3 separate regions of the Homo sapiens genome follow, and all the other regions are linked to region 3. Evidence: fine-mapped expression QTL. A gene starts in region 3. Each other region holds a variant in brackets. All regions are shown on one strand. Distances are from middle to middle. Region 1 overlaps EXOSC7 (exosome component 7). Region 2 has its middle 25 kb from the start of CLEC3B. Region 3 holds the start of CLEC3B (C-type lectin domain family 3 member B).

The links. PIP is the estimated chance that this variant, and not a neighbour inherited with it, causes the effect.
Region 1: its variant is the best candidate, but not a certain one, in a credible set for the expression of CLEC3B in esophagus muscle (GTEx, PIP 0.70).
Region 2: its variant is the best candidate, but not a certain one, in a credible set for the expression of CLEC3B in aorta (GTEx, PIP 0.57).

What each region holds. Positions count from the first base shown.
Region 1 is chr3:44,991,252-44,998,229 of GRCh38, reverse strand. EXOSC7 (exosome component 7) reads right to left here. Exons shown (of 8, transcript NM_015004.4): 4 at 978-1,143. Among named protein-coding and RNA genes, the nearest start is that of EXOSC7, 18 kb to the right of the region's middle. The variant C/T (reference allele first, on the strand shown) is at 2,922.
Region 2 is chr3:45,047,442-45,054,419 of GRCh38, reverse strand. No RefSeq gene overlaps it. Among named protein-coding and RNA genes, the nearest start is that of CLEC3B, 25 kb to the right of the region's middle. The variant T/C (reference allele first, on the strand shown) is at 3,497.
Region 3 is chr3:45,021,736-45,028,713 of GRCh38, reverse strand. It overlaps CLEC3B (C-type lectin domain family 3 member B), which reads right to left and starts at 2,411. Exons shown (of 3, transcript NM_003278.3): 1 at 2,243-2,411. The coding sequence starts at 2,351. RefSeq lists enhancers at 1,030-1,529, 1,530-2,031.

The DNA of each region.
Region 1 (6,978 bases), 30 kb after region 3:
ACCCCATCTCTACTAATAATACAAAAATGAGCCAGGCATGGTGACATGTGCCTGTAGTCCCAGCTACTCAGGAGGCTGAGACATGAGAATCGATTGAACCTGGGAAGCAGAGGTTGCAGTGAGCCAAGATCACGCCATTGCACTCCAGCCTGGGTGACAGAGCAAGACTCCATCTCAAAAAAAAAAAAAACAAAAAAACAAAAAAAAATTAATTAGAGCTACACAGAGAAGTTACTGTCGAGTGCCAAAACCTGGGTAGAGGAGTATTTGGGAGGCAAAGTACAAGGGAAGAAATGACGGGCTGGACTCAAAAGACTCCCAGGGGAGTAGACTCTGTGTGGGAGGAGGCAGGGCCTCTGGGGCCTCACCCAGGAAACTAAAGGCAGGCACGTTCTGAGGTGTTTAAAAGAAACAATGGCACAGTGAAGTCAAACCAGGTGTTCACATCATACAGACCTGGCTTTGAGACTCAACAGCACTACTCACAAGCTGAGACCTCTTGGGCTAGTTGATTTACCTCTGTCTGTCTTAGTTTCCTCACTTATAAATGGGAAATATAACAGTGTCCATTTGTAACAGGTTTATAAGGTTTAAATGAAAATGCATGTAAAGAGCTAATCATCCTTCCACACAGAATGTACCAACCTGCTTAAATTCTGCCCATGAACTCTGTCTGGCACCATCCAGAGACCATCTCTTGTTTTACTCTTCCTGGACAATTTTTATGGGCAATTTTAGGTGCTATCATGATATGACTATAATTTTATCATAGAATGGCATTATATATATGCTGCTTACATCTATGTTGTATTTAATTTTTAAAAAAATTATTATAGGAGACCATCTTTTCCCAACTAATCCCACCCTATAAGTTGAAAGCATCCACCTGAAGAGGAAAAAAGCACTGGAAGGAAAATAGGCCAACTAGTCTTTCCAACAAAGGTAGAATGTGGCCAGTACAGCACGATGATACTCACCAGCACATCCACATAGAGAACCCAGCAGTGCTCCCGAGGACTAATGCAGAGGGTCTTTAAGTCGACACTGCTTTTATTGTTAAATATCCGATAGAGGGTGTTAGCGATCTCGGTGCCAAGGTCATCACCTCCTCTACCTTCAAATTCAGGGGTAGCACTGGCTGAACTATACAAAACAGAAACAAAAAAACTGGGTGAGTCTTTCCAAGTGCAAAAAGCAAAGAGGCAAAGCTTTATTCCAGTTTCCCTGTAGAATGCTGGAAGAGCCAGCTGCTCGACAGAAAGTCACTGAGATGAGGAAAGGATGGCATCTGCCACTTTTCCTGACTCCAGACACATGTAATGAACCAGACCAGCACTGTGACCTGGATTTGTCAGTGTGTGTGATGGGATTTCCCAATAGCATCTAACAGAAGCCATCTTTAGTCAAAGAGAAACAGGAGAGTGATGGTAATGTGAACCTCGGCCGATAATAATTAACTCTCTTATCTTCAGAGTATAATAAATACTCTTCTCTGGCAGGCCTAGGAAACTGAGAGGCCTAGGGAATGAAGCAGTCTGGGTTACAGAGGGGTTTTGTCATATACACCACCTCTAGTTTCACAGCTTTAGAACACACTACGATACTCTCAATATAAAAACCACAATGTAAGTACAATAACCTTTCTGGAATAACTTAAAAGACATGTATGATAGTATGTCAGAGCTTTGTCAGAAACTTTAGATATCACTGTACTGAAGAGAAGGAAAATGAAAGAAAGCAAGGGAAAGATTGTTGGCTTGTAAGTAGTAGGTTACCTCCTTCATTTGATATTTTTCAAGAGAAAAACTTTTTTTTTCCCTTTTTGGCTTCTTGATATTTATGCCCAATAACCTCAACAAAACTAACAGGATTCAACATTAGCCACCCTAAAAACACTGAAGTGTTTAACAGGACATTTCTGAGAGTTTTTGGCTTAATACAAACAAACCCTTAATATGTATATGAGGTAAGTAACATTCTAGTAATTATTTTACTGTAACAGTAAAGGACTAGAAAGGTAAGAAGCCAGTGGTTTCAGCATGGACTCTATAAAATCACATATTAAAGCCTTCTGACCCCTTGCCCATCTGGAAGGCACCCAGCCCTGCACCAGCTACCAGAGACCTAGAGACTAAGTGAGGTGGATGCAGACCCAAAGCCAGCAGTTCCAGTGAGGTAGGGGAGTTTCACCATAGGGAGCAAACAGTGAGGTAGAAGCGGGAGTAGGGGCACAGGAGTGTCAATTAGCATTCAGGTTTAAAGGCGACCTCAAACCTGGGATGAGCAGAGCTGGTCAGGCCAGAGAGGCAGGAAGATTCCAGGCAAAGCAAAACCTGTGTGAACGCCCATGGCAGTGCCCACCCTATTTGTGTAACACTAAAAGAAATCTCACTTAGTAATATAGGTGGAAGAATGAATCCCAAATTAATCAGACTATGTTGTTACATAAAATTTTGCCTCTCTAATTATGTACTCCTCCTTTACCACTGTGAGCCAGCAGAATCCCCTTTAAAGTCCCCAAGAGAGACTTCATTACTGCCATAGCAACCTCGCTGTTCCCTGCCTTTGCTGGACTCAGGCACTGAGCCAAGAAAAGCAGCTCATTTATGGTGAAATAATCAAGTCAACAGGGACCAGGTTTTTACTTTGCACAGCCAGCAAAACACAACCTGTTTCTAATTTAAACACTAAGCAATCAATATTAAGTCCCAGGTCTTAAGTGCTTAAAAATACATCTACAGAGATTTCTGTGTACACAAATCCAGCCAGAGATGCTTACACTCAAAATGTTTACCTTTCCCTGAATGTAGTGGGCACATCCTCCTGGGTGTGACTAATTTCTTTGGGATTAATGCACTAACTCTTCTACAGCCTTGGGAGATGATTTATAGAGCTTCCCAGGTCCAACTGTCTAAATTAAT[C/T]TACCTATAAAACCATGCATGCCCCTGGCCAGGCGTGGTGGCTCACGCCTGCAATCCCAGCACTTTCGGAGGCCAAGGCGGGTGGATCACCTGAGGTCGGGGGTTCGAGACCAGCCTGACCAACATGTAGAAACCCCGTCTCTACTAATAATACAAAAATTATCTGGGCGTGGTGGCACATGCCTGTAATCCCAGCTACTTAGGAGGCTGAGGCACAAGAATCACTTGAACCTGAGGCAGAGGTTGCAGTGAGCTGAGATCGCACCACTGCACTCCAGCCTGGTCAACAAGAGTGAAACTCCGTCTCAAAATAACAACAACAACAACAAACCCATGCCCCACTGGTTTTTTTTTGACACTGGGTTAAAGTGGAAATTTTTACCTATTTTTAAATGGCTTAAAACACACACACACACACACACACACACACACACACACACACACACACACACCCATTCTTCCACCATAGCCAGCAGTCAGACAGAGAGGAAGGTTTAGAGACTCATGAGCCCAAGGAACTCTCCTGTAACTGGATGGTGCCATAGCTGTGCAGTGACTCTGGGGAGGAGGCTAGGAAAACGGAAAGCAATTGTTCAGGGTGGGGGATGGGGTACAATGCTTTAAGCAACATAAGAAAGCCACAGACCCCATATTCTGCTGATGTGTGAAGACAAAGGCTGGAATAGAGAAATGAGGATTCCACTTCACTACTGGGCACTCACAGCCCAAGGACTCTTTCTGACAAATTTAGACAGAAATGTAGACCTGGAAAAGGCCTTAGAGACCATCTCCAGAGGATAAAAACCCAAATGGCTATAGGGGTCAGCAAGGTTACTACATGTATCTGAACAAAGGGCCACATATAACTAATAGAGAATGATGGAAGCTGTGGCAAACTTTCTAGCCCTGATTTAAGGTCCACCTTAAAAAAAAAAAAAATCCCTACATGAAACAAAAATCTCCCAGGTGGGATCTGACCTGTGGGATGACACTGTGAAACCCCAGATGGTCTAACTCTCTCATTTTACAAGAAGGGAGACCTTATCTTTTTTTTTTTTTTTTTAATGTTTAGCATGAGCTAGACACCACTCTTAGTACTTTAGGTGTATTAACTCATTTAATGTTCACAACAACCCTAGGAGGTATGGATTCCATTCTAGAAACAAGAAAACTGAGTCACAGAGAGGTTATGTAATTTGTCCAAGGCCACATGATGACTGTGCCTGGTAAGCTAAAATTCTAACCCAGGCAGCCTGGCCCTTATCTTCTATGCTTCCCTGTACTCTCCTTGAATCTGTAATTTGGCAAGCTTGGTTTATAGTCTAACATTAGTCAGGTTCACTTTCCTTGGTTTTACCTTTTGCCTCAGGGAAATGAATGTATGCTTTGGTCTTGGAACTTATCACTAGACAACAAATGTTGGAGTCAAGGAATGTTGACCAAGGAAGCCCTAAATAAAAAGCTGCTCTGCTCTGTTAGAGAGAGAAAGAAAACACAGGCTGGTAATTGTAGCTGCCTGCTCATATGCATCACAATCTACTCCTTCAGTGGGGGGTGTACACACTTGGTCTTTTGGGCATAAAACCAAATGCTTTCTGCATTTACCAAAACCAATTCTGACCCTTCATAAAGCATGACCAGTCCCTCTTCCAGAGTTGTGGGAAATTGTTTACTGAGCTGGATAAACTAATTAAGATCCTGGGAATGCTACCCCTCCCAGCTCTCCACCCCTTCTGACTCATCACCTCTACCCTCCTGCTTGGAACATCTCTGGTTTAACTGGGGTAGGCTGAGATCAAGGCCATGCCTACCTGGAAAGGGACTCTAGACACTGGGCCCACTGTTGCTTGCCTGGCAATCAATCTAGCCTACAAATCTATGAAGTCTTACGTCCAGGTCAGGCCAGGCCCACAGCAGAAAAAGTGATCTAGTGGGTACCTAGGCAGGGCTGACCTGGGCCTTACCCCTCCAGTAGTCATCTAGCCCCAACACAGGCCCTAAGGCTGATTCCTCTGAGTGTACATGTGCTCATGTCTGAGCCTGTAGAAGCCTCCCTGTAAATGGGTACCAGACCAATAGTAAGTATATTCTGAGGTTTTCATCACAAGCCTTTGTTTGAAGTGTCTGCGAGAGTTATCTCATCAGCTTGGGAGACTTTGATTACAATTAGCCTCAAAAGGCTTCTGCAGGTTGCCTCTCTGCTTTGTACCCACCCCCAGCCCCTCAGCCAGGAACAGTGTCCCCTTTAGCAGCACTAAGCAGGCAAGGAACCCAGATATAGTGACTCCAACCACCAATGCAGGCTTGAAGATTCTGGTTCAATTTTAGTGAAAAATACAAGTGTTCACATTGAAAAATAGTTAAGATCCCAAAGGGAAGTGACAAGTGCGGAGTATTCTGAAACATTTATGAATGAAAAATGTTCTCCTAAACTCCCCTAGTTAAAAACCCAAGCCTCTCTAAGAGGTTAAACCACAGTCCTAAACCCATCAACACAATGGTCGGAGAACTGAGAAGCAACTTGATGGCTCGCCGCCTAGTGGCAGCGCAGGGTGACACACCAGCTCACTAAAATCTTCCCTTCCTTTGGGCTTTAGATAGAAACCACCTTTTCCTAAAGTTTCCAAATTCTCATTTAAAATAGCCTACTCTCAGCTACAACCAGCAAACCAAAGACATGAAAAGGTCAGATTTTGCTCCCAGTTTAGTGACAGTGCTGCCAGGCATCTCTGGAACAGGGCTCAGGGTCAGTGCAGCAGTCTTTCCAAAGGGCTGTGAGGGCTATATCAAAGATTTTTCGTCATTCCCAAGAAACAGGGTAAATTATGGAGGTGGCGACAGTGTCTATCTTGGCTCCATGTATTATCATCCCAAGTAGACAAAACCAAGTGAAATGGGTTGGCAGAAAATCAATTAGTTTTCTGAGACCTCTCTACCCCTGGCAATTTAATTAAAACTGGAAGTTGCTAACAAGAAGTTAAATCAAACTAGACTCAGAGCAGCAGAAGAAACCCTCACCACCATCACCACCACCATCACCACCAATTTATTTCCTTCCACTGGGCAGCAACTATGTTTCAGCCTGTGGATAGGCAAATGCCTTGAGCTCTCCAGCAGAGGCCCTATGCCTGGAGTCCAGGTGGGAGTGGGTGTGTGGCACCCTTATTGCTGGGCACATCCACGGGTGTCCAGAAGCCATTCCTATTCACTGATTCAGAATAAAAGGACACACTTGTTTATGCAATTAAAATAATTATGCTCCTTGAAGACTCAATTGAGGTTCTGATACAGGTGGCAGCGATCAGTGCTTGGTAACCTCTCCCATCTCTGTAGGAAATGGGGTTTTGTGACTCTCTCATGGTGATTCTACTTGCCCGGCTGATTACATTAGCTGAGCCACTTAAAGAAGGTAAAGTGTGCCACTTTGAGACTGTCCATCTTGAGAAATCAATTCAGGAGAACTACCTAGATACTGGAGCTCTTGGGCCTGTGGGGATCCTTTTGAGACCCACAGAGGAGGAAAAGAGACCAGCAGGCAGCCACTCTAAGCCAGGAAAGATAGGCTACTTCTAGAAGCCAGATCTTGGGAAGAGGCAACTCAAAGAATCCTCTCACACTAGAGTCACTCATCCTTTACAGCTGGGACAAGAAAGGGATAAGAGCAGCAGGCTAACTTGGAGTCATATTTAGACACAGAGCCACAATGAAACGTATCCCCTATACCAAGCATCTGAGGGCAACACCCTCTCTTTGGTGTGGTTGGGCTGAATGTCTTTGGTCTGCCTAAAATGAATGAGGTAGAAGGTAATGAAGGAGATGAAAAAGAAAGCAAATTACAGTTCCTCACACATTGTCTGCTCCTCAGTGACTGCTTACTGCATTGAATTAGGCAGATCAAGGCCACCAGAGGCATTCTGCTTCCTCCAAGAACAAAGGAAAAGATAAGTTGGGGGCTTGAACAAGGTCACCATCATCCACAGTGACTTAAAGGATGGGCCAATTCCATGGGACAACTCAGGCTGGTGAGAGAAGATGAGCAGAACCAGGAGAGACGACT
Region 2 (6,978 bases), 26 kb before region 3:
CTAAACTGAAACCGCCTTTGCAAAATTATGACTGAGACAGTGAAAGAGATCTAACCTAACTGACTCCATCTTGCTTCTAACCTCCAAGCTGTCCTTGTTCATTCCTGGGCATAAGCTGAAGTAACATTGGGAGAAACTTAGTTTATAGTTTAAACAAAGACGGTAACAGCCCTTTCCCAAAGCAGACCTCCTTCTTGCCTGGGAACTAGATTGACTTTATAGAACTAACATTAGCCACAAGATTAGAAATTATGGTTTAGGAGTCATGCAGCTGGAGGCTACAAGATTCTGACCTGCCCTAAACTGCTCCTAAGATCAGTGCTTGAGATATTTTGCAGCCCCTGCACTTGATGGATTAGCTGGCACAACCCAGATCAATAAACTGGCTCATCTGATCTTGTGGCCCCCACCCAGGAACTGACTCAGCACAAGAAGACAGCTGCGACTCCCTATGATTTCATCTCTGACCAATCAGCACTCCTGGCTCACTGGCTTCCCCCAACCCACCAAGTTATCCTTAAAAACTCTGCTCCCCAAATGTTTGGGGAGACTGATTTGAGTAATAATAAAACTCCAGTCTCCTGCACAGCCTGCTCTGCATAAATTACTCTTTCTCTATTGCAATTCCCCTGTCTTGATGAATCAACTCTGTCTAGGCAACAGGCAAGGTGAACCCCTTGGGCGGTTACAAAACTAGAAGAGAAATGAATGAGGGGCTGTGGCTATCAGGGCAATAATAAAATGTGATGGGAGTCCTTTGCCAATCTTTATTCAGTTTACCTAACTGTGAGCTTTCGTTTCTAGCTCTGCTCCCAAGGCAACAGACCATATTACAAGTTACTTACGTTAGTAAACAAACTACATTAATCTATAAACTAATTAAAACATATTGTAATGATTTCCCAGTGATATTCTTTAATAATTTTCATTTGGATACTGAAAATGAAAATCATGCATCCCACCCTGCTCTTCAGGAATGCTGAAGGCCAGAGCAGCTCACAGGTTATAGATTTTGCATCTGTAAGAGACAAGCACACCTCAGCATTCACCTTCAGCCCAAACCTCTGCATAGAGAACTACCAGACCTTTAGCAACAGCAACGTAATATCTTCTCACCTGAAAAAGAGAGAAAACCCATATTCAGGGCATCGGGGAATAAAGAGAACCAAACAGGTTCCACTGGGGACGGTGGCATTTTGGGGATTTCTTGATCCATCTCATCATAGCCATGGTTTGGGGTGGAGAGAAACAGGCACCTTTGTGCTGTTTTAGTCCACCTTTAAGTATCCAAAGTGACATTTTCCAGGTCCTCCCTCCCAAGTTCTTTGAGGACCCCAAGAGTCAAGAAGAGGGTTTTGAAGGTAACGGCTGTGCTAGGGATGGGCTTCTGCAGAACAAACACGGGCCACTGTGCTTGACCCCCATCTGGACAGCCACCCTGAGTTGGTAAGGACGTGATGAGGTGAGGAAGGGGGAGAGGAAGCAATAAGCAAGGGTTTGAGTTGGTCAAATCCTTCCAGCAAGTTCCCATGCAAGTGTTCTTGCCACAGAGGCCCATTAAAGGCCTGCTGGTGCTCAGGGGACATTGCCTCCCAGACATCTCCAGGGGCTACTCCAAAAACCCCTAGCCAAAGATCCCAGCTCACCTCAGCCCCCAGTCTCTCCCAGATCTGGTTTCTAGTTTACAAGGTAAAGCTCTCATCCTGGGCTGTTAGGAAGGGCCTCCAAGAGTAGACTCACCTGGGCCCTTCCCTCCCCCTCATCTCCCAGGGGAGGAAGGGGTATGGGGTATGTCTTGAAGCGTATTTTACTTTTGTTTCTGGGTTTGTTTTTTGTTTTTTGTTTTGTTTTTGTTTTTGTTTTGAGATAGAGACTCACTCTGCTGCCAGGCTGGAGTGCAGTGGTGCAATCTCGCCTCACTGCAACCTCCGCCTCCTGGGTTCAAGCGATTCCCCTGCCTCAGCCTCCCAAGTAGCTGGGACTACAGGAGTGCACCACCAAGCCAGGCTAATTTTTTGTATTTTAGTAGAGACGGGGTTTCACCATGTTGGCCAGGATGGTCTCGATCTCCTGACCTCGTAATCTGCCCACATCGGCCTCCCAAAGTGCTAGGATTACAGGCATGAGCCACCGCGCTCAGCCTGAGGCATATTTTTTAATCAGCTGTCACCTGTCTTCACCTTGCCTTCCACTTCCAAGCCATGATTTTAAACTATAGACAACCGGGGGAAAAGATACCTAGGCCAGAGTGGATACAAAATCCTCCAACAGTGAGTGACAAAGACCTTTGAGAAAGAAGAGCCTGGAGAAGGAGGAGGCCACAGAGGGTGATGCCTCAGATGGGAGTGGGGGAGAGAAGGGAGGGAAAGGGGAGAAGGGATGGGAAGGAGTCCCCAGGGACCAGGGGCAGTCATTGGACAGTGGGGATGGGAGTCCCGAGGCACGGTTGGGCCCATGGTTAGTCTCAGAATGGCAGTTCAAGCTCAGCCCTGAGCCCTGCAGGCACCGGCCCAGCCCAACGCACAGCCCAAGGGTGGGGCAGCTGGGCTGTAGGAGGCTGTGAGCTGAGGCCTTGCCTACTCCCCTGGGGCCTTCTGCAGAGTCCTGGGGAGAAGCGAGGCACTCATCAGTGGGGAACCGTGGTTCTAATTAGAGCCCAGAAACCCCTTATAACCAGGTTCAAGACCATCAGCCTGTGAGTGAGGAAAGGTCTAGGACCCTGACTGAGGACAAAGGGGAGTGGCAAATGAGCCCCATTTACCCATGAGACTGTACTAAGGGCTTTGCCAAGTGAGTTGCTGGCTGACATTTTCGCCAATGAGAGCAAAAATAGTTTATGCCATCAGACACCCCTACATCCTAGTTTTGACCAGCTTTTTCTTTTGCAGCGTGCATTTCCCCACCTGGGACCTGACAGTCCTCCCACAGGTAAAGTACACAGCTAAAAATGTGAGCCGTGTGACGGGGTAGCGTGGCTTAAAGGCCTAGAGCTAGGCCCATTCTTCACTAAGTTGGCCCAGAAGTACCAAAAACCTTCCAGGCACCTTTCTGTTTTCTCCTCTTTTGAGTTCACAGTCCCATTAGGTCTAGTCTCTCCTAGAAGCACTGGTTTTCCTAACCGGTACACTCTATTTCCACCCGCTAGTTAGAAGTGGAGATGTTGACTTTGGTCTCCTGCGTCTCTGGAAGGTGACCCTCGTAATTGTTCTATTCTCCTGAAAGGCCTGTGTGTTTCTGATTTGGTGACTGTTCAGGAGACCCAAGGTTGAGTCTTGGGAAGAGCATCATGAAGGCCACCGGGAGGCTGGGACCTGGCCCCTGCTGTGCAGTTCTTACCTGATTTGCTTCCTTCTGATGCACAAAGGAAGGTAAGGGGAGAACTGTCCAGCCATGGCTCCCTCTGAGTCAGCTCTCCAGGCTTGTGGACTTGTGGACCTCATTTTCGGGACAGATATCCCTCTCCTGTCTTTCTTGGCCTCTCCCTCAACACTCATCT[T/C]TCCAATGTTGCTCCTTATCCGTTACCACTATTTCTCTGCTACAGTTCCCGGTGCCTCCCCAAATCTCTTTTCCCCTAGCAAGATGGTCGTAAGCTGAGGTACCCTTCAAGGGCAAAGAACTCCCAGTTGGGATAATGTTGGTCACCAATTTCCTCTGTCTCTGTGTTAGTCCATTTGCAGTGCTATAAAGGAACACCTGAGGCTGGGTAGTTTATAAAGAAAAGAGGCTTATTTGACTCATGGTTCTGCAAGCTGTACACAAAGGATGGTGCCAGCATCTGTATCTGGTGAGGGCATCAGGAAGCTTCCTGTCATGGCAGAAGGTGAAGGGGATGCAGCATGCCACATGGCAAGAGAGGGAGCAAGAGAGAGGAGGAGGTGCCAGGCTCCTTTTAAACAACAAGTTCTTGGGTGAATTCATATAGTGAGAACTCACTCATCACCAAGAGAATTAGGTGATAGTGCTAAGCCATTCATGTGGAGTCCACCGCCATGATCCAATCACCTCCCACCAGGCCCCAACTCCAAAACTGGAGATCACATCTCAACATGAGATTTGGAGGGAACAAACACCGAAACCATATCAGTGTCCTAAATTCCTATTTCCAGCTTTGTTTCCCCTTGATGTTCTTAGCTCTTCTCTCTCCCAAAATGACCAGATTTTCACTCTCTCTCAGTTCATCTCCTCCTCAGTTCTCAGGACCTTCGGTCTTCTCCTCAACTCACTATAAGTCCAACTCACCAGTGTCTCCCACCCGTGCAGCATGTGTTTTCCGTATGCTGGCCACTGTACATGGCTTGTTCTCGGTCTTGATTGGTTTGGAACTTGTTTTACAGCCCTGTGAAGGTTAAGTGTATTTCCACTTTACCAATGAGGAAGAATTCGTATGAATTGTTCAAGGTCACAGGGCAATGAGAGTTGGAGTGGGAACTCTGGTCAGGAGATTCATCCCCATCTGAGCTGTCTGTCATGAAATCCTTTTCCTCCTCATTGTCTTGTACTCTTTAATTTCTTATCCTTTTCTTTCATAGGCAGAATCTAGCACCTTGGGAGCCAGAGTCATAGAACTGGCCAGGACCTGACCAACTAACTACTGCCTGTGCCCTGTAGCCAAAGACCCCCAGGAACAAAATTGGATTTTTTAATTTGTTGCAGTGGGGGAGTCTGTCTGTGATGAGGAACCATGGGGTGTCTCAGTAAGACGGTGTTAGAAGGGACTTCTAATATATATGGGCTCATGTTAACTGATTTGAGAGACGTCTTAAGGAAGCAGGGGTTTGCGCTGGATTGGATGCTATCAGGAGGCAGGAGCAATACTATGAGAGGGCATCTTAATTTTTATGCAGAAGGTGGAATGCGTGCAGCAGGGCTAAAGCTGTGATTGGTTAAAAAAACAGCAAGCAGTCAGTTGTGTTAGCTGGAGTGGGGGATATTTAGTGATTCTTGTGATTTTCACAGTGACCTTGTTTTTGTCCCTACTCAGACGTGATTACAGAATGGTCTTGTTTTTGCCAGCCCCTGTCTGATGCTGGCAATCTGTGAGATAGGCTGTGGTTCAGCAGAAAAACATTACAGCCCAGCCATGAGCACCTGGCCAGTAAGAGCCAGCTGTCAGGGACTACTTTTCTCTTTCTGGCTACAAAGGCAAAGCCTCAGTCCTTAAGTTTCAGCCTGCTCTATATCCCAGACTCATATCTTCATGTTGAATAATGGTCATCACATTTGAAGAGGAAGAAGAAGAGGAGGGATAGACAAGAACAAGGAAGCAGGTTTGTTTGGGGGTGAGGGTAAAATGACATCTTAGCTTAGAGGATTCGTGTCTCTGTGAACTGAATGGATCCGGGGTTCCATTCCTCTATCTGGATAGAATGGAATCCAAAGCCACGTCAGGAAAAAGGATTATGATACCATTGGTGTGCAGGTGTCTTCTACATTATTAGAGAAAGTTCCAGGTGGAGGGGTGGGGAAGGCAATTATGGAGTGCCTGTTCCTTAATACAGATAATTCTCTTAGGAATGCAATCCTTTCCTAAGAGAACACATCTAAGGGAAGCAAAGCTAAGGTAATTGTACATGCCGATTTTCTGGTACATCTCTGATTTTAATAGTATAATTATTCCATTACCTTGTTATAGCTTGTATAATTTTATTATACATATTATATTTTGCATAATTTTGTTTTAGTGAAGGGAATTCATTACTTGTCTGTTCTCTGAGAAGCAGACAGGATGGGATTAGAAGTGTAAGAGATGTTTTGGGGGCAACACCTGTGAAGGATCCAGGGTTCAAGGGAGCAGGAATAGGCAGGGAGAGCCCTCCACAACACAGGTCCCACACCTGTGTAAAAGAGAGAGCAGGAAAGGCTAGGTGGAAGAACCTCAGACTGCAGTACAGTTCTGAGAACATCTTGGCCAGATTGCTGGGGAGTTCCCAAGCTAAAATTCTCCATGAGAGGAGTCACCCTCGTTGGGTAGGAATGGATCAGCACAAACGCTCCTACGTACTCAGTCACTGCCCAGAGGCAGCCGGGGTAAGTCTGGTCTAGTGTCCTTAGGGGTGGCAGCCAAGGCTGTCAGTCCACTCTGCTCCTTGCAGCAGGTTCTGTTAAAGGGATCTGAGTGGTGCCCTCCATGGCCATATTGGCTTCAGCTGCCACTACCACTTTTTTTGAGTCTTTGAATCCATTTAAGTTCTCCTAGAAGCGGAGGCCAAGAAGGAATTAAACATACAAGAGATTGATTAAGGGAAATACCTGTGAAGGATAAAGGCGGAAGAGAGCAGAAAAAAACCCCTATACAAATGTGCCTTAAACTGTATACTGCTGGTGAGTAAATACATTCGTACAAGAGTCTTTGTTTTTGTTTTTTAAAAAAAGCTTTTGTTGTGCATTCTGAATTTTGCTTTGGGAAATATGGTTTCTTTATGTCATGTTAAGTAACAGAATTGCAATTAGAAGCATCAAAAATAAATAAATTCTACTTCAACTACTACATTTTCATGGCACCTTTCTGTGAGGAAATTTGCAGCTACCCTCTACCTCAGTGGTTCTCAGCTTCTCAACTGGGGGTAATTTTTCCCCCCAGGGGACATTTGGACTGGTCTGCAGACATTTTTGGCTATCACAGCTGAAGCAGGGTATTGCTGGCGTCTAGCGGGCAGGGGTCAGGGATGCTGGAAAACATCCTACAATGCCCAGGACAGCCCCCACAACAAAGAATTATCCAGCCCCAAATGCCAATAGTGGCGAGGTTTTGAAACACTGCCCGGCTGATCCTCTTAGTCCTCTTGCAAGGAAACCAGCAGCACAGGTGACTTAAATGGGCACTGAGGGGCATTCTAGATAGGCTTAGTGGGGAGACTTCTGAGACTGGGAGCTCTCATATGGAAAGGATTATCCCTGAACCAGCCCCAGAGCAACAGGGCAACATACAGCCATCTCCTAATGGTAGACCATTCATGGAAATCAAGCATTCTGCAGAAT
Region 3 (6,978 bases):
CTGAGATTCTCATTCCTGGCTGCTCCTAGGAATCCCTGAAGACCTGTGGAAAAGGCAGATGCTAAACTCACCAAGATCCCTAAACCAGCATTTCCAGGGGTGGGGCCCAAGCACCTGAATTCTTAACTTTTATTTTATTTATTGATTTATTTTTGAGACGGAGTCTCACTTACTCTGTCACCCAGGCTGGAGTGCAGTGGTGCAATCTCGGCCCATTGCAACCTCCACCTCCCAGGTTCAAGCAATTCTCCTGCCTCAGCCTCCTGAGTAGCTGGGACTACACGTGTACACCATCACACTCAGCTAATTTTTGTATTTTTAGTAGAGACAGGGTTTCACCATGTTGGCCAGACTTGTCTTGAACTCCTGGCCTCAAGCGATCCTCCCACCTTGGCCTCCTAAAGTGCTGAGATTACAGGCTTGAGCCACCACGCCTGGCCAAGGCACCTGGATTCTAATGTATCTCCCAGATGATGTTGATGCCTGAGTGAGAACCACCATGGTTCATGTCTTAAGAGCAGAGACGGTGTTTCTCTGCTGTGTGTCCAGCATATAGACTGGTGCCTACGTGGAGAAAGAGCTCTATAAGTGCCTGCCATGTTGGTGGGCGGGAGACTGCCATGGGTTTCAGCGAGAGGCAGGGCCTGGGTGGCTGTTCTGTTGGCCTGTAGCCCTGGAACTCCAGGGGCCCCTTCTATGGAGACCACATAGGGCCAGGGTTCAAGTGTGACAGCTGGAGAGAACCAAGGCATCACGTGCTCTGACCCTTTTTTTTTTAACATGAGTTTAAAAAGATTTACATAATTATATTAATACTGAATCTTTGGTAAACTTGAGAAGCTGGCGATGGTTTTCCACATTCAAAAATTCTATGATTTGCCTTTGGAGCTGCATCTTTTACAAAGGCTCTCCCTTGGTGGCGATTTTGGCTAATGCTCATAGACGTAACTATGCACGGTATTGTCTTCTCTTTTTAAATGAACATTTTGTGGAAGGTAATATACACACATAATTTTTTAAAATCCAAACAGTTCAAAAAGCTGGTTTCTTTCCCAGTTGAGACTGCGCCCAGCCCCTGGTTTTTCTTCCCAGAGGTAATCACTGTTACTCACTCTTGTGGATCCTTCCAGAAAGAACTTATGCACATACAAGTAAAAATGTATTATTATATAAATCCCTTTTTCAAAGCAAATGTCAGCATCATACTCATTCTCTTTTGAATGTTTCTTTTTTCACTTTGTAAACTGAATCTTGAAGATGATTTTTTTATCAGCAGCCAGATTTGCCCCATTCTTTGTCACAGTGTTGTGAGGCCCCATGGCCCCGATGTCCCTTTATGCACTGCACTAGTTCCTGGCCAGTGGGCAACTGTCCATTTATGAAGAGCCCCGGGAGGGCCTAAGGGAGGCCCCCACAGCCCCTTCTTTCCTTTTCTGTGCCCTTGGTCCTAGCTGCTTGTTTCTCTGCCTCAGTCCCCACCCTCATCCCCTTGGACTCTCTTCTAGCCTCTGCTCCCTGGGGGGGTGACAGCCCCGTCCATTGCCATGACATTCCACTGATGTTGTCTCAACACAGCCTGGGGTGACCTCACTGCAGGCGGGGCTGCAAGGGCAAGTCTTGCTGTAGCCAAAGCAACCGAGGGACACCCCAATCCCCAGAGGCTACAAAGCAGAGCAAAGCTGCTTCTGGTGGACTAGTCTGAGTTACATTTATTTCCTGAAGGCTGTGATATGCTACAGAAATGAGAATTCATTTCTTCTTCTTTTTCTTTTCCCTGTGCATCAAGCAACAAGTGAGGTGCCTTTATATATTTTGTATCATAAAATCTTCATGAGAAGTCTTTGAACAAATACCACTGTCCCCATTTTACAGTTGAGAAAACAGGTTGGAAGACTCCAAAGCCCAGCCTGTGCAGCTCTCCCTGGTAAGGGCTGAGCGCTGCCAGACTCCCAGGCCAAAGGTTTGGTTTCTTTAAAATATTGGGGATGAGGGGAGGAGAGAAGAGCAAAGATCAGTTTGGATGATCTGGAAGGTTCTTCCCAACTCTAAGGGTCAGGGATTCTTATGATTCTGACAACCAACTCTGCTATGAGAGAACTCCCCCAAGCCCCAAAGCCCACTTTACTCAAGTTCCCTAGATGACTCAAAAGGAGGAAAATGAAGGAAAGGAGCATGAGGACACACTAAGGAGAGGGGGACCTGCTCCCTGGAAGATGGCACAGGGCTCTGTCCCCCTCCTTACCTTTCTTGGCATTTACAATCTTCTTGGGCTTCTGGGTTGGTGGCTCGGTGGTGACCTGGGTCAGGAGGGAGAAGAGGCAGAGGAGGAGGTAGGCCCCCCAGAGCTCCATGCTGCTGCGCGGGCGGGGGCTGCTGCTGCCTGCAGCGGGTCTGGGTCCGAACGCAGTGACAGCCACGGCCCAGGCTGCACGTCTTAAGGCAGCAGCCAAAGGACCTCTGTCCAGGAAACCCTCCCCAACTTGGCTGCAGGCGTGCCAAAAAAATAAAACAAACACACAAGCCTGCAGAAGGATGAAGTCCTGAGGGCCACAGAGCCTCTCTGCCAGGGAACACCCACGCAGCATCCTGGCCCTGCCTTCTAGAAAGAAGCCCTTATTTCCTAGGATTCTGAGAAACACACGGTGGTTGTCATCACATCTGCGGAGCAGCTACCTTGGGTAGGGGCTGAGGCTGGCTGTTCACTAACATTAACTCACAGAAGCTTCACACCCAAACCACGAGGGAAGCACTGTCCTTTCCCCATTTTACCATTGAGGAAATTGAGGCTCGGTGAGGTTAGGGAATTTGCCCAGGCTACCCAGCTGTCACGGGGTAGCAATGCCCCCTTATAGGGTGATCTGGGGCTGGCTGTCTGATTGGTTTAGAATATTTGTTATGATTATTTTGTGGCTCTGTCTCCATGTACTTGATGCATTTTTTGGTTAAAAAATCCAAGGGATTCCTTCCCTTCTTGTCTTCCCTTTCTCCTGAGTCCTGTCCTAAAGCCACAAAGTGGGGCATAGCAAAGGTGGCGGAGGGAGAAGCCATCGTGCCCCAGAGGTACCAGAGAGGATGTGGGGAGAATGTGCCCTCAAGGGGTGGACTGGTGTGGGGTGTGGGAGCCCAGCAGGGTGGAGGGAGCATCCTGGGGAAAGCAAAGGCCCTGCCTGGAGTGCTGGAGTCCAAGTGAGGCAAGGAGGGGATCCATGTGGGAGAGAGGCTGGTGGCAGAGACGGGAGATTGGTTACACACAGGGATACTGATCAAATAAATCTACTGAAGACAGTGGGAGTTAGGTTTCCTATTGTCAGAGAAGGAAGTTATGTATATGGAGAGAAAACTGGAATGAATCCTGTTGTGTGGGATTAAAATCGGAATGATCAGTGTACCCTTGTGGCCTTGAATACATAAAGATAAGTCCATATATATAGATGGAAATGTGTGTGTGTCTAGTCCCCACAGTCACTGGGGGGCCTGGAGCAGCCAGCCCCGCATAGCCTGGAGCACTCCTAGCACCTGAATACTGGCTTCTGAATATGACTTTCCACTAAAGGAACCAGAGCACCTTGCAGAAACGGCTGATTCTAGCACTGGGAAGTAGGAGTGGGGTGCAGAAAATGAGCCCGGAACTTGTTGTTTTGCCAGAAAACAAGGAAGTGCTTAATGAATAATGGGAACACGTCAGTAGGACACAGAGCCAGCTTGAAGGAGCCTTCAGTGGTCAGAATCAGGGACAATTTGAGCACCAACATAGTGACAGTAACAGATGGGAAACCACCAGTGCACACAGATATAAGTAAGTAAGGGAACGCATTGAAAGTCTGATGTTCTTCAATGGGATGTTTACATAGCCTCAAAGTATCTGCCCACAAAACACTTATCCATTCCAGAGAGAAAAAGAGCAACTTCATGGTGAAGAAGGCTGGCAGACATCACCTCATCTGTGACCAAAGTAAACATCAACAGGGCCAATAAAAAGCTTGCAGCACCTGGGGGGCTGCAGTGAGAATGTGGCATCACTCCATAGGACTCCGGCCAGAGAGACATCAGACAATCCCAAATGGAGGAGCATTCTGCAAAATGACTGCCAGTAATTTTCAAAGCTCCTGGCTGAGGAAGTGTTTCAGGCTGAAGGAGACTGAAGACACAGAACTAAATGCAATATGTGATTCTGGACTGGACCCTCCATTCTCAAGGATGCAGTTGGGACAACCAGAGAAATCTGATGGGGTCTGAGGAGCACACGGCAGTGATGTGTTGTCACATGCTGCATCATGACAGTTCAGTCAACAACAGGCCACATATGTGATATGCTTCCATAAGATTATAATGGGGCAGAAAAATTCCTAACACCTAGTGATGTCACAAAGGGTTGTAAAGTCATAGTGCAACTCATTATTCCCAAGTTTGTGGTGATGCTGGTGTAAACAAATTTACTGCCAGTCATATCGAAGTAGAGCATATAAGGTCATGTTAGCACATAATACTTGATTTTGTTAGTCCGTTTTCACACTACTCTAAAGAACTGCCCAAGACTGGGTAATTTAGAAAGGAAAGAGGTTTAATTGATTTACAGTTCCACACGGCTGGGGAGGCCTCAGGAAATTTACAATTGTGGCAGAAGGTGAAGGGGAAACAAACACCTTCTTCGCAAGGAGGCAGGAGGTACAATGAATGCAGGAGGAACTGCCAAACACTTATAAAACCATAAGATCTCATGAGAACTCACTATCACAAGGACAGCATGGGGGAAACCACCCCCATCGTTCAATGACCTCCACCTGGTCTCTCCCTTGACACATGGGCATTATGAGGATTACAATTCAAGATAAGAATTTGGGTGAGAACATAGTCAAACCATATCATTCTGCCCCACATGATTGTGCTTTGAAATGTGAGAGCATGAGATTTGGGAGGGGCCGGGGTGGAATGATATGGCTTGGCTGTGTCCCCACCCAAAATCTCACCTTGAATTGTAATCCTCATAATCCCCATGTGTCATGGGAAAGACCAGGTGGAGGTCATTGAACCATGGGGGCAAGTTTCTCCCATGCTGTTCTCGTGATAGTGAGTCTCATGAGATCTGATGGTTTTATAAGCATCTGGCATTTCCCCTGCTTGTACTCACTCTGTCCTGCTGCCATGTGAAGAAGGTGTCTGCTTCTCCTTTGCCTTCCACCATGATTATTAGTTTCCTGAGGCCTCCCCAGCCATGCAGAACTGTGAGTCAATTAAACCTCTTTCCTTTCTAAATTACCCATTCTTGGGCAGTTCTTTATAGCAGTGCGAGAATGAACTAATACGATGATAATAAATGACCGTGTCACTGGTTTATGTATTTACTGTGCTATACTTTTTATCATTATTTTAGAGTGTACTCTTTCTACTTTTTTTTTAAAAAAGTTAACTGTGAAACAGCCTAAGGTGGGTCCATCAGGAGGTTTTCCAGAAGAAGGCACTGTTATCATAGGATATGATAGCTCCATGTGTGTGACTGTCCCTGAAGACCTCCCACTGAGACAAGAGGTGGAGGTGGAAGACAGTGACACTGATAATCCTGACCCTGTGTAGGCATGGGCTAATGTGCGTTTGTGTCTTAGTTTTTAACAAAAAGTTTAAAAAGTAAAAAAGTAATAATAACTAGAAAAAGCCTATAGAATAAGGATATAGAGAAAATAATTTTGTACAACTGTTCAATGTGTTTGTGTTTTAAGCTAAATGTTATAAAAGTAAAAAAGTTAAATGAGTTCAAAAGTTTACAAAGTAAAAAAAGTTATGGTAAGCTCAGGTTAATTTATTATTAAAAAAGAAAACCATTTTTTAAAAAAATGTAATGCAGCTTATGTGTGCAGTGTTTTATAGAGTCCAGAGTAGTGTACAGTAATGTCCACGTTCACTCACCACTCACTGACTCACTCAGAGCAACTTCCAGTCCTGCAAGCTCCATTCATGGTAAGTGCCCTATACCAGTGTATCATTTTCTTTATCTTTTATATCAGGAGTCCCCAACCTCCAGGCTATGGACCAGTACTGGTCCACAGTACTGGTCCGTGGCCTGTTAGCAACTAGGCCCATCAGCAGGAGGTGAGTGGTGGGTAGGCGAGCATTACCACCTGAGCTCCGCCTCCTGTCAGGTCAGCAGCAGCATTACATTCTCATGGGAGCACAAGCCCTATTGTGAACTGTGCATGAGAAGGTCTAGGTTGCACACTCCTTATGAGAATCTAACGCCCAATGATCTGAGGTGGAACAGTTTCATCCTGAAACCATCACCCCAACCCCGCATCCGTGGGAAAATTGTCTTCCATGAAACCAGTCCCTGGTGCCAAAAAGGTTGGGGACTGCTGTTTTATACCATATTTTTACTCCACTTTTTCTATGTTGAGATACACAAATACTTACCATTATGTTACAACTGCCTACAGTATTCAGTGCAGTCACGTGCTGTACAGGTTTGTAGCCTAGGAGCAACATACCATACCTGAGAGCCTAGGTGTGTAGTAGGCTATGCCACCTAGGTTTGTGTAAGTACACTCTGTCATGGTAGCACAACGATGAACTCGCCTGACAATGCATTTCTCAGAACGTATTCCCATTGTTAAGCAACGCATGACGGTATCCCTGTTATGGTCCTACTTGATGGTGTGCTGTGATTATGTAGGAGAGTGTCTTTGTCTGTAGGAAACACACATACTGAAGTATTAGACAGCGATATGGTACTGTGTTGACAACTTACATAGTTCAGGGGGAGAATGTTCTTTGTACTGTCGTTGCAAATTTTCTGAGTTTGAGATTCTTCCAAAAGAAAATACAATACTATGTACTTCAGGCTTTTCCCTGCCTTCTAGGGACCCCACCTTCCCCTGTCTGACTTAGGGAGGGATCTCTTATGTAGTAGGCCAGGGAAGCAGGAGGCCAGCTGGGCTGGCCCAGTGCACAGTAGTCCTGCCAAGGGTGGGGGCCCTGAGCACGGAGCAG